Linked DNA regions of Homo sapiens: region 1 is linked to region 2. The links come from fine-mapping of genetic effects on gene expression. A gene starts in region 2. The other region holds a variant in brackets. All regions are shown on one strand. Distances are between the middles of the regions.

What was found. PIP is the estimated chance that this variant, and not a neighbour inherited with it, causes the effect.
Region 1: its variant is the best candidate, but not a certain one, in a credible set for the expression of SPRYD3 in whole blood (GTEx, PIP 0.64).

What each region holds. Positions count from the first base shown.
Region 1 is chr12:52,711,644-52,717,019 of GRCh38, forward strand. It overlaps the pseudogene KRT126P. Among named protein-coding and RNA genes, the nearest start is that of KRT77, 11 kb to the left of the region's middle. The variant G/A (reference allele first, on the strand shown) is at 2,722.
Region 2 is chr12:53,076,468-53,081,843 of GRCh38, forward strand. SPRYD3 (SPRY domain containing 3) reads right to left here and starts at 2,923. Exons shown (of 11, transcript NM_032840.3): 1 at 2,844-2,923; 2 at 648-794. The coding sequence starts at 2,866. RefSeq lists a silencer at 2,624-2,903.

The DNA.
Region 1 (5,376 bases), 360 kb before region 2:
AACCTCCACCTCCCGGGTTCGAGAGATTCTCATGCCTCAACCTCCCAAGTAGCTGGGATCACAGGCATGTGCCACCACGCCCAGCTAAAATATTTGTCTTTCAATGTCTGGCTTATTTCACTTAGCATCATGTCCTCCATTTTTCTATGTTGTTCCAAATGACAAGATTTCCTCCTTTGTATGGCTAAATAATATCCCTTTGTGTATATATTCTACATTTTCTTTGTCCATTTATCCATCAACAGACACTTAGGTTGATTTCATATCTTGGCTATTGTGGATAAAACTGCAGTAAACATGAAGGTGCAGATATCTCTTCAAGATAGTGATTTAATTTCCCTTGGATATATACTCAGACGTGGAGTTGCTGGGTCATATGGTAGTTCCATTTTTAATGTTTTGAGGAACCTCCATACTGTTTTCCATCATGGCTGTACTGTACAAACTTACCTTCCCACCCACAGTGTACAAGTGTTCAACATCACTAACCATCAGAGAAACGCAGATCAAAACCACGATGAGACATTACTTCACAACTGTTACGATGGCTATATCAAAAAGATAAAGGATAAGAGTGAGGGCGTGGAGATAATAGCAAAGACTTGGAACCAACCCAAATGTCCATCAAAGATAGACTGGATTAAGAAAATGTGGCACATATACACCATGGAATACTATGCAGCCATAAAAAAGGATGAGTTCATGTCCTTTGTAGGGACATGGATGAAGCTAGAAACCATCATTCTCAGCAAACTATTGCAAGGACAGAAAACCAAACACCACGTGTTCTCACTCATAGGTGGGAATTGAACAATGAGAACACTTGGACACAGGATGGGGAACGTCACACACCAGGGCCTGTCATGTGGTAGGGGGAGGGAGGAGGGATAGCATTAGGAGATATACCTAATGTAAATGACGAGCTAACGGGTGCAGCACACCAACATGGCACATGTATACACATGTAACAAACCTGCACATTGTGCACATGTACCCTAGAATTTAAAGTATAATAATAATAAAAAAGAAAAAAAGAATGAGGGCGTGGAGAAAAGAGAATCCTTGGACAGTGGGCTTGTTTTTGAGAGGTGAAGCCATAGCCCCTCCCAGTGCAAACTGCAGTGGACAGTCCCCAGGCTTCCTGCTCTCTGATTTAGACTATCCCAGATAAGTGCTTCACCCTACAGCAGGAACATTCTCTGTTGAAGCTGTAGTTATGTGTTGTTTTTCTAGTGTGGTGAGCCTTTGGCTATCCCTCTTGGCTTTTTGTGTACTTAGCTAAGAGTTTCTCTGATCTGTTATCAAGGAGAATTGTCTCTTTCTTGCTTTCTCTGACAACCTTTCTCAGTCCCCCACACTAGTGAGCATTTTACCAGGAAGGCCACCATGCACGTATGCCTTTGCATGTTTGCTTATGTTTTACTTCTCCCACTCACATGCCCTAATTTGCAAGGGGCCCCCACATCCGGCACCAAACCTCTGTTTTATCCAAGTATTCCTGGATCTGCCTGTATTCTGTGCTCTCATCTGGGGTAGGGGTAGGGATGAGGGTGGAGGTGACCTGTTACCAAACCATTTGAAGTTCTTTGTTCTCATAACTGTCAATATTTGAAGGCTCCGCCCCACATCATATCAAACATGTTAACATACATCCCTGGCATATATAACTTTTGCCATAAAACATTTGAATTTTTATAATTGCTTTTGAAAATGTTTGACTACCAGCAACTCCTTTGATTATAATTAGCTGTGATTACTGGATAATTTCATACATATTTCGAATTACTAGAAAAACAAGGAAATCTAACCTACGACTTTTTTCAAATAAAATGAAATGTTTATGAATTCAAATCTGAACAATTAGGAAGGTTGATGTATGTCATCCATAGTATCTCTTGGGTGAAAAGGCCCTGCCCCTCCAGCCTGGGAACTCTCAGTACTTCCTCCCCAGGGTCCCCCTCCCAGCTCAGACCAGAGCTGTGTGTGTGAAAGGGACTGTGAATGACCCACTGGCCACAAAGAAAGTCTCAATGACCTGGAAACCAGAATAAAAATTCTACCATGATGTCTGAAGCACAACGCACTTTATCGAAGATTGTACAGAACAGAGAATTCCTTTCTTGAAGCCAAGACGGGAAATCAAAGTACCAGCAGGAAGTGGTGACCGGGGAGGCCCTGCCTACAGGGAGGGGAATGGGCCGATTGGAACTGTCCCATAAGGCAGTGGGACATTGGCGGGGGTGAGGGCACCTTCAGGGCACAAGTGGTGACATGGGGGCCCAGCTCCTGGCCACTGCCTTGTGTGGGTGGATGTTTTTTCAGATTCTGTTTGTTTGTTTAGAGATAGGGTCTCGCTCACTTGCCCAGGCTGGAGTGCAGTGGTGCCATGCTAGCTCAATGCAGCCTCGAACTCCTGGGCTCAAGTGACCCTCCCGCCTCCGCCTCCCAAAGTGCCGGGATTACAGGCATGAGCCGCCGAGTCCGCCGTTGAGGGTTTACCGCCTACTCATCCTTCGCGGCAACTTTCGGGCTGCTGCGATGCCAGCAGTCTGGGAAGGTGGGGCTCCGGGGCACAGGTCAGAAGCAGCGGAGGGAAGGGGCCCCGCGGGGGTGCGGGGGAGCTCAGAGCGGGGCGTGCCGGAGGGCGAAGGGGACTGGGGTCCGAGGACGCCCCTGGCGCGGGGTTCAGAATTTGTGGCGGGACCGCCAGCTCTAGGAGGA[G/A]CTTTGTTCTCTCTGGCGGCGCTGCTGCCGCCGCCGCCGCCACCCCGGCTGACGGCGCAGGAGTCCCGGAGCCAGAGAAGCCCCCCGAGCACCGCGGAGCTCCCGCCCAAGCCCCAGCCGCTGCGGCCCCGGCTACCGCCGCGGGCCCGGGCTCCGACTCCTCCTCCCAGGGCGCAGCCGCCGCCAGTGCTGCTGTGGCCAGTCTCTGCAAAGACGGTCGGGGTCAGGGAGCCTGGCAGTGTCCGCCCGGCACGCCAGCCCCTCCCACAGTCCCGAGCCGCAGGTCTTCCCGGGGTGACGCCCCGCCGAGATCCGGCAAGGCGTGGGGAGGACAGGCTTCAAGGAGGGGAGGGGAGGTTGGTTCCTCCAAAACAGCCACCAACAGCTCTTCCAGCCTGCAGGCCTGATGGCCTCGCACCAGCGCTGGCACATGGCTTGAGAAACTGCATTCCGAGGCCTCCAGCCCCTTCCCGGAGAAAGAACCCAATACTCACCTAGGATCACGGAACTCTGGCACCTCCCAGACACCCTGTGAGGAAAACCAGAGAGTTCGCTCAGTTCCTCCCTCTCCTTAAACGGCCTTCCTTAGGTCAACAGCAAGGAGAGCCTTGGTCACCCCACCCCCATTCCCTCCTGATTGATGTAGAGAGTGAGAAATAAGCTGGACGGGTGCTCAGAAAATCATAAAACACATTCTTCTTTCTATTGGGTAAGGTTAAAGTGTTACTCTTTCCACTGACATCTCCCAAAGGGATACAGACCAGAGGATACAGAACATTTCTGGACCCACCCATCCTCTCCACCTCCTCAGGATACTCTTCATTTAGCAAATGCTGTTTGAACCCACATGGGACAGAGCCCTATACCCATGTGCCAGTGTACGGGAACACACTCTTCAAAAACTTGCAGTTAAGGCATTAATAAAGAAATGGTCTAGAAATAACATTTATGTCTATGACCCTTCATCTTCGCAGACATACACTGTATAGCTAAAACATAGGACGTTATTCCAGGTAAGGCGCTAACGTGTTCATATGGCATAGGAAGCACAGCTTTCTTGGTGTGACAGCATCTCCCAGCCCTGAACAAGAGGCTGTGCCTGCCAATGGCCACCGCCACCTCCCACAGAACGCACAGCTCCCACACCTGGCAGCACGCTCAGGCAGGAAAGCCCCAGGCCTCTGGCCTCCTGGGAACCAGACGGACTCTCACCTGCATTCCTCGCCCTCCAGGAGGGTCCGGTAGGTGGCGATCTCCACGTCCAGGGCCAGCTTGGCATTCATCAGCGCCTGGTACGCACAAAGCAGCAGGGCCAGGTCCTCTTTGGCCTGCCGCAGTCCAGACTTGATGTCCTGAAGCTTGGCATTGGTGTCCTTGAGGGCCACCTCCTAGCGCTGCTCTGCATCAGCGATGGTCATCTGCAGCTTGGCGTTCTTAGTGTGGGGAGCCAGGAGTCCAATTTAGATTCGAATGTCATTCACTGACGGCCCGTCCTGTGTGCTTGGTGCTTGCACGTGTGTTACCTGATGTTGGGCAAGTGAGGAAACCCCAGGCACAGGGGTTAAAGGCTATGCAGCTGGTCAGCAGAGAAGCCTGGGCTGGGATCTAGGTCCTAGCACACCAGGGAGTGGGATTAGAAACACCTGGCTTTAAGGGGCTATACCAACTCAGGAGGAGCCAGACCCTTCCTGTGCCTCTCTCCTTTTTTATGGGAAATAACTGAGCATCTTCTGAAAACTTCCCTCCTCCAGGAAGTCTTCATGAATTATCAGAGAAACCTTCTCTCTGCCTTAGCCCATCTAGATGTGGGCTTCCTTGGCTACTCCCCGAATTCAGTCTTCAACAGTCAACTTCTTTCTCCAACCACCTAATCATGTCTTTACTCAGTTTCTATCCCATATCAACCTTCAAGCTCCAGGGAAGCAGAAACTAAATCCACGTAACAATCTTAGTTCAGCGCTAGCCCAGCACATCACCCAGGAAATCTTAGTGTACGTGAGTGGGGGCATGATTTTGCTTTGCGTAGGTGCTAGGCCTGAGTGTCATGATGGAAGCATAAGCCCACAGCCCTGGTCATGTTCTTTTCCTCCTCATCCCCACCTGCTTCTTGATGCTCTCGATCTCCACCCACAGCCTCTGGGTCATCCTGTTGAGCTCCATGATCTCATTCTTGGTGTTCCTCAGGTCATCCCCATGCCTGCTGGCCGTGGTCTGCTGCTCCCCCAACTGTGTCCAGAAAAGTCACATTTTCAGAAAAGGGGTCTTATGGCTCACCTGCTTCAACACCTTCATACCACAAATGGAAAAACCAGAGCACAGTCGTATACAGACCCAGTGCTCTCTCCCCACACCAGAAGCCCTGTCTTCCAGAACAGTAGCTACTGTCTGTTGAGCTGTCGCTGTGCACCAGACCCTCTGTTTTATCTCATTCATCCTCACAACAACTTGATGAGAAAGGCATTATTATCCCCACCTTATACAAAAGGAAAACTGAGACTCAGATTGCCTGAGTTCCATGACCAAAGTCATCCAGCTATGGAGTGACAGTGTGGGCACTTGAATGCAAACATCCCAGATGCTGGAGCCAGCTTCTTTCTTAACCAGCAGAAAACCCAGGGGAAGAGTCAAATGTAGATGGACCAACTCTGTCTCATT
Region 2 (5,376 bases):
ACAGCCACTCTTCACTAGATCTAATCCCTGAGACAGTGGCAGAAGACTCAGTTACCCCACTGGAGTCTTCTCAACAAAGCACCTAGGAAGCTTCTGAGACCCCAGCAGCCTCCTGTGTCTGATGTGATCCCTTCCCCTACCCAGCTGGATCCCCTCCTTGCTGGATGAGGACAGAGCCACCCAGTGACAGAGGCAGAGGTGAGTGCAGGGTGAAGCAGCACACACTGCTCCACTCAGAAAGGCCTCTGGGCGGGTGGATCACTTGAAGTCAGGAGTTCAAGACCTGCCTGGCCAACATGGTGAAACCCTGTCTCTACCAAAAATATAAAAAATCAGCCGTATGTGGTGGTGCACGCCTGTAATCCCAGCTACTTGGGAAGCTGAGGCAGGAGAATCGCTTGAACCCAGGAGGCGGAGGTTGCAGTGAGCTGAGATCACGCCACTGCACTGTAGCCTGGGTGACAGAGCGAGACTCTGTCTTAAAAAAAAAAAAGAAAAAGAAAGGCCTCTGGAGTCAAGAGCATCGCCCTTCCCTGTGCAGTGCACAGTCCCCTTCTCTGAAAAAATAAAAGTTAAAAAAAAAAAACCCTTTCCTCTCTAAGATCTGGAACAGAGAAGAAAATGTGGAAGCATTCTCCTGAACTCACCTTAAAGTATCTCCATCTACAAGGATATGTTTGAACCTCTCCTGATATCGGAAAGCTCGGACCTCTCGAATCTCCCGGATCCGCCGGCGCCAATTCAGAAACCGGTAGTGCAGGTTGAGGTCATCCATCTTGTTCATGAGAACAAACCTGCCAAGGGGAGAAGGGGATTGAGGAGAAAGCAGGGCCCTAGGTAAAGCACCTCAGCCTCTGTGACCCAGAAGGTAGAGAAGGCACTGGCCTTGAGGCCAGCTGCCCAGATTGACCTCAACAACCCTCATCTTCTTTCTTCCATTCAACAAACATTTACCAAGCACCTACTCTGTGTGCTTTTCTCCGTGCTAGGGATGGAGCTGTGAACAAGATGGACAGGATTCCCATTCTCACAGGCTGGGAGGTGGACACGACAGGCAATAAACAGACATAATTTCAGGCAGTGGAGAAAAGAACAGGGTGATATGATAAAGAATCTGGAGGCAGTGGATAGAGTGGACAGAGGCGGTCTCTCTGAGGAGGTGACATTTGAGTTGAAAAGGAGCTAGGCATGACAAGCCAGGCATATTCCAGGCAGGAAGGGCAGCCACAGGTCCTTGGATGGAAGAGAGCTGGCATGGTAGAGAAACAGAAAAAGGCATGGACAGCTGGTATATAGGGAATGTGAGGGAGAATGTACAAGATGAGAATAAGGCAGGAGTCAGATCATGGCCCTACAGACAATGAAATGGTAAGGACTCTGGATTTTATTCCAAGATGGAAATTTCTGGAGGGTTGTAAGCAAGGAAATGCCATGATTGGCTGGGTATGATGGCTCATGCCTGCAATCCCAGCACCTTGGGAGGCTGAGGCAGGAGGATCGCTTGAGGCCAGGACCCAGACCAGCCTGGGCAACGTAGTGAGACCTCATCTCTACTAAAAATTAAAACAATGAGCCAGGTGTGGCAGCATGCACCTGTAGTCCCAGCTACTAAGGAGACTGAAGATGGCTTGAGTCTGGCAGGTCAAGGCTGCAGTCAGTTCTGATTGTGCCACTACATTCCAGCCTGGCTGACAGAGCAAGACCCTGTCTCAAAAAAAAAAGAAAAAAAAATGCCATGATCCTGGGCCTGGTGGCTCACGTCTGTGATCCCAGCACTTTGGGAGGCCGAAGTGGGAGGATCACAAGGTCAGAAGTTGAAGACCAGCCTGACCAACATGGTGAAACCCCATCTCTACTAAAAATACAAACAAATTAGCCAGGCGTGGTGGTGCGCACCTGTAATCCCAGCTACTCAGGAGGCTGAGGCAAGAGAATTGCTTGAACCTGGGAGGTGGAGTTTGCAGTGAGCCGAGATCGTCCCACTGCACTCCAGCCTGGGTGACAGAAACTCCATCTCAAAAAAAAAAAAAAAAGCCACGATCTTAATCAGTTCCTAAAGATCATTCCAGCTGCTGGTTGGAGAACTGATCACAAGAGGATCAAGAACAGATGTGGGCAAACAATTCAGACGTTGTTGCAGCAGTTCACATGAGAAATGACATCCACTAAGTCGGTAGCAGCGCCGATGGATGGGGGTGGGATGATCCAGGTATTTAAACAACCATCAGTCCCTACATATAAATGAATGAATGATTTTTCCTGGGAGCCAAAAGTGAGAAAGAGGTGAAGTACTCTTCTCTTCCCATTCCCTAAACACTGGGACAGGGGTTTTCTTGAGGCCTGACATTGCCTTGCACACGGTAGGTGCTTAGTAAGCCTTGGCTGGGCTGAATTTGATCCCAATACGCAAATTACGACTCTTATGCAGTAGCTACAACCCACCACGTGGCCCAGAAGAGTAGGCACCTGTGGGACAGACAGCCCTAAGATTCCACTCCCGGGCACTCAGCCAGGACTCAACCCCAGGTAGATGCTGGTTGCGCAGACCCCACAGTCTTGGCACCGGCGAGTGGCGGCCCTACTGGGCCCTGTCTCCTCCCCGGGCACGGCCTGATCACTGAGATGAGACCCGGGAGCAGCCGGGCCCCAGCCCATCCGTGTGCCTACGCCCAGTCTCCCCAGGCCCTGCACTGGGCCGAGGGTGCAGCAACAGAAGAAGCCCAGTGACCAGAGCGCAGGGCCCCGCCCCTGGCCCCAGAGCCCCCGCCCAGGACCCCCGCCTTCCGCTTCAGGCTCCGGGGAGATACGAGGCCTCCGGGACCCCGCCCCCGATCCCCGCCTACCGGGGCCGCCGCGTCCTCCTCATCCATAGGCCTCTCAGCTCCGCACACAAGCTCTTCGGCCGCCGCCACCACACACATCCGGGTCCCCGCCTTTCCTTCACTCCTAGAGGCCCGCCCCGTCCCCCATCTAAGCCAATCAGCAACGGCCTCTGACGACGGGCACCTGCAGGAGCCAATCGGAAGGCGCAGGCAGGGTGTGGGGCGCGGCCCGGTGCCCTGGGTACCCAGCTCAGGGCCCCGGTCTGGTCAACCCGGCTGTTGCTGGGGTGAGCGAAGGCGACGTGGCAGCGCGGACGCTGCTGGGTGCCTGGGCGCCGCTGAGGCGGACAGGGGGCGGCTCTTGAGCGGCGCCGGGGAGACGGGACGGGCGGAGAAGGTGGCCACGCTCGCACAAACGTTGCGAGTATTACTTGAGCCCTCCTTCCGCGCTGGACTGAAATAAAAGCTTTACCGGAATGTCCATTTAATCCACGGTGCAGCCTTATGAAATAAATCTTATCTCCTTTTTACGGATGGGCCGAAGGCTGGCCTCGATAGCCTGCGCGCTTAACTGTTATGCTGTGTACCCTCCCGAGCTCTGTTTCATGGCACCGCTCGCTCATTATTGGCAAGAACATTCCATTCCAGGAGGAGAGAACTGGGGATGCAGAAGGCACAGTGGCACGAAGCGGCATTCTGTGGAGGAACACAGGGCTTTGGTAGGCTGAAGGAAAGTTAGACTGGGGTTAGAATGTGAAGGGACGAAGACACGAATATTTATTGAACACCTACTAGGGAGTGCCTACCTGCCATTCTGGGGGGTTGGACTCCTAGATGAGGACTTCCTTGCTCCCTTCCCATCACCATATCTCTCTCTTCTGGACGGAAAAGATTCCTCTCCTCTGTAGCACCTCATTTATAATACTTTTTTTTTTGAGACGGAGTCTCACTCTGTCGCCCAGGCTGGAGTGCAGTGGCGCGATCTCGGCTCACTGCAAGCTCTGCCTCCTGGGTTCACGCCATTCTCCTGCCTCAGCCTCCCAAGTAGCTGGGACTACAGGCGCCCGCCACCACGCCAAGCTAATTTTTTTTGTATTTTTGGTAGAGACGGGGTTTCACCGTGTTAGCCAGGATGGTCTCGATCTCCTGACCTCTTGATCCGCCCACCTCGGCCTCCCAAAGTGTTGGGATTACAGGCGTGAGCCACCGCCCCCCGCCATTTATAACACTTATTACCGTCTTGCTTTCGTTATTGGAGTTACTTGTGTGTGTAGACCCGTCTCTGCTAGACTGTGAGCTCCTTCAGACCCCAGACTATTCTATTCTTATCACACTAGGTACTCTAACGTGTTGAGTGCCAGGAAAGCCATCAGCTCGCATACCGTGAATAGTGCCCACTCGGCATAACGGCAATGGGTGATAGGAATAGATGAGATGGGAAACAGAGAAACCCGGATTAGAGCCCCAATTCTGTGTGACTAAAAGGTCAAGGTCTTGGTGTTCTCATCCCTAAACAAGAATTATTGAAGTATGTGTTCTTTTAGCTCCCTTCCAGCCCCTGGATGACTCAGTTCTGAATAGCTACCCTTCCAACTCATCTCCACCTCCTTTTGATTCCCTCATTGCTTCTCCTCCGCTCCTCTTCTTGTGTTATGAAAATACCTCAACACTGAGCTCAGCTCTTCCCAAAGGCAGCCAGAGAGGGACAATCTTAGGAGGCTGCCAGAGTCATGTTCATCCCAGACCAGGGCTCATTCCAGAAACTAACTAGCTAGGTGGCTAGGGTCAGACATGGAGAGAAATGGCAGAAGAAGGCATTTCCAAACTGTTACTGATGGTTGGTGATTCCACTCGGGATTTCCTCACCTTTAAGTTCCAGATGTGGGGCTCACCTTTTTGGCGAATTCTCCATCCATTGGCATGCTCAGGACCCAGTTGGTAATTTGTGTTTGGTGTCTACATGTATTTGAATAAACAACTTTATTGCCATATAACCGACATACAATAAACCATATATATTTAAGGTGTACAATTTATTCCTTTCTTTTTTTAATTAGAGACGAAGTCTCACTGTGTTGCCCAGGCTAGTCTCAAACTCCTGAGCTCAAGCAACCCTCCCACCTCAGCCTCCCAAAGTTCGAGGATTACAGGTATGAGCCACTGCACCTAGCCAAGGTATACAATTTGATAAGCTACTTATATACCTATGAAAATGAAAATGTCACCACACCCAAGATAGTGACCATATCATCATCATCCCTAAAAATTTCCTCATGCTCCTTTATAATCCCTCTCTCTCACTCTTTCATCCCTAGGAACCACTAATCTGCTTTTTGAAACTTTTTTTTTTGAGACAGAGTCTCACTCTGTCGCCCAGGCTGGAGAGCAATGGGGCAATCTTGGCTCACTACAACCTCCACCTCCCGGGTTGAAGGGATTCTCCTGCCTCAGTTTCCCAAGTAGCTGGGATTATAGATGCCCGCCACCACGCCTGGCTAATTTTTGTATTTTTAGTAGAGACGGAGTTTCACTATGTTGGCCAGGCTGGTCTTGA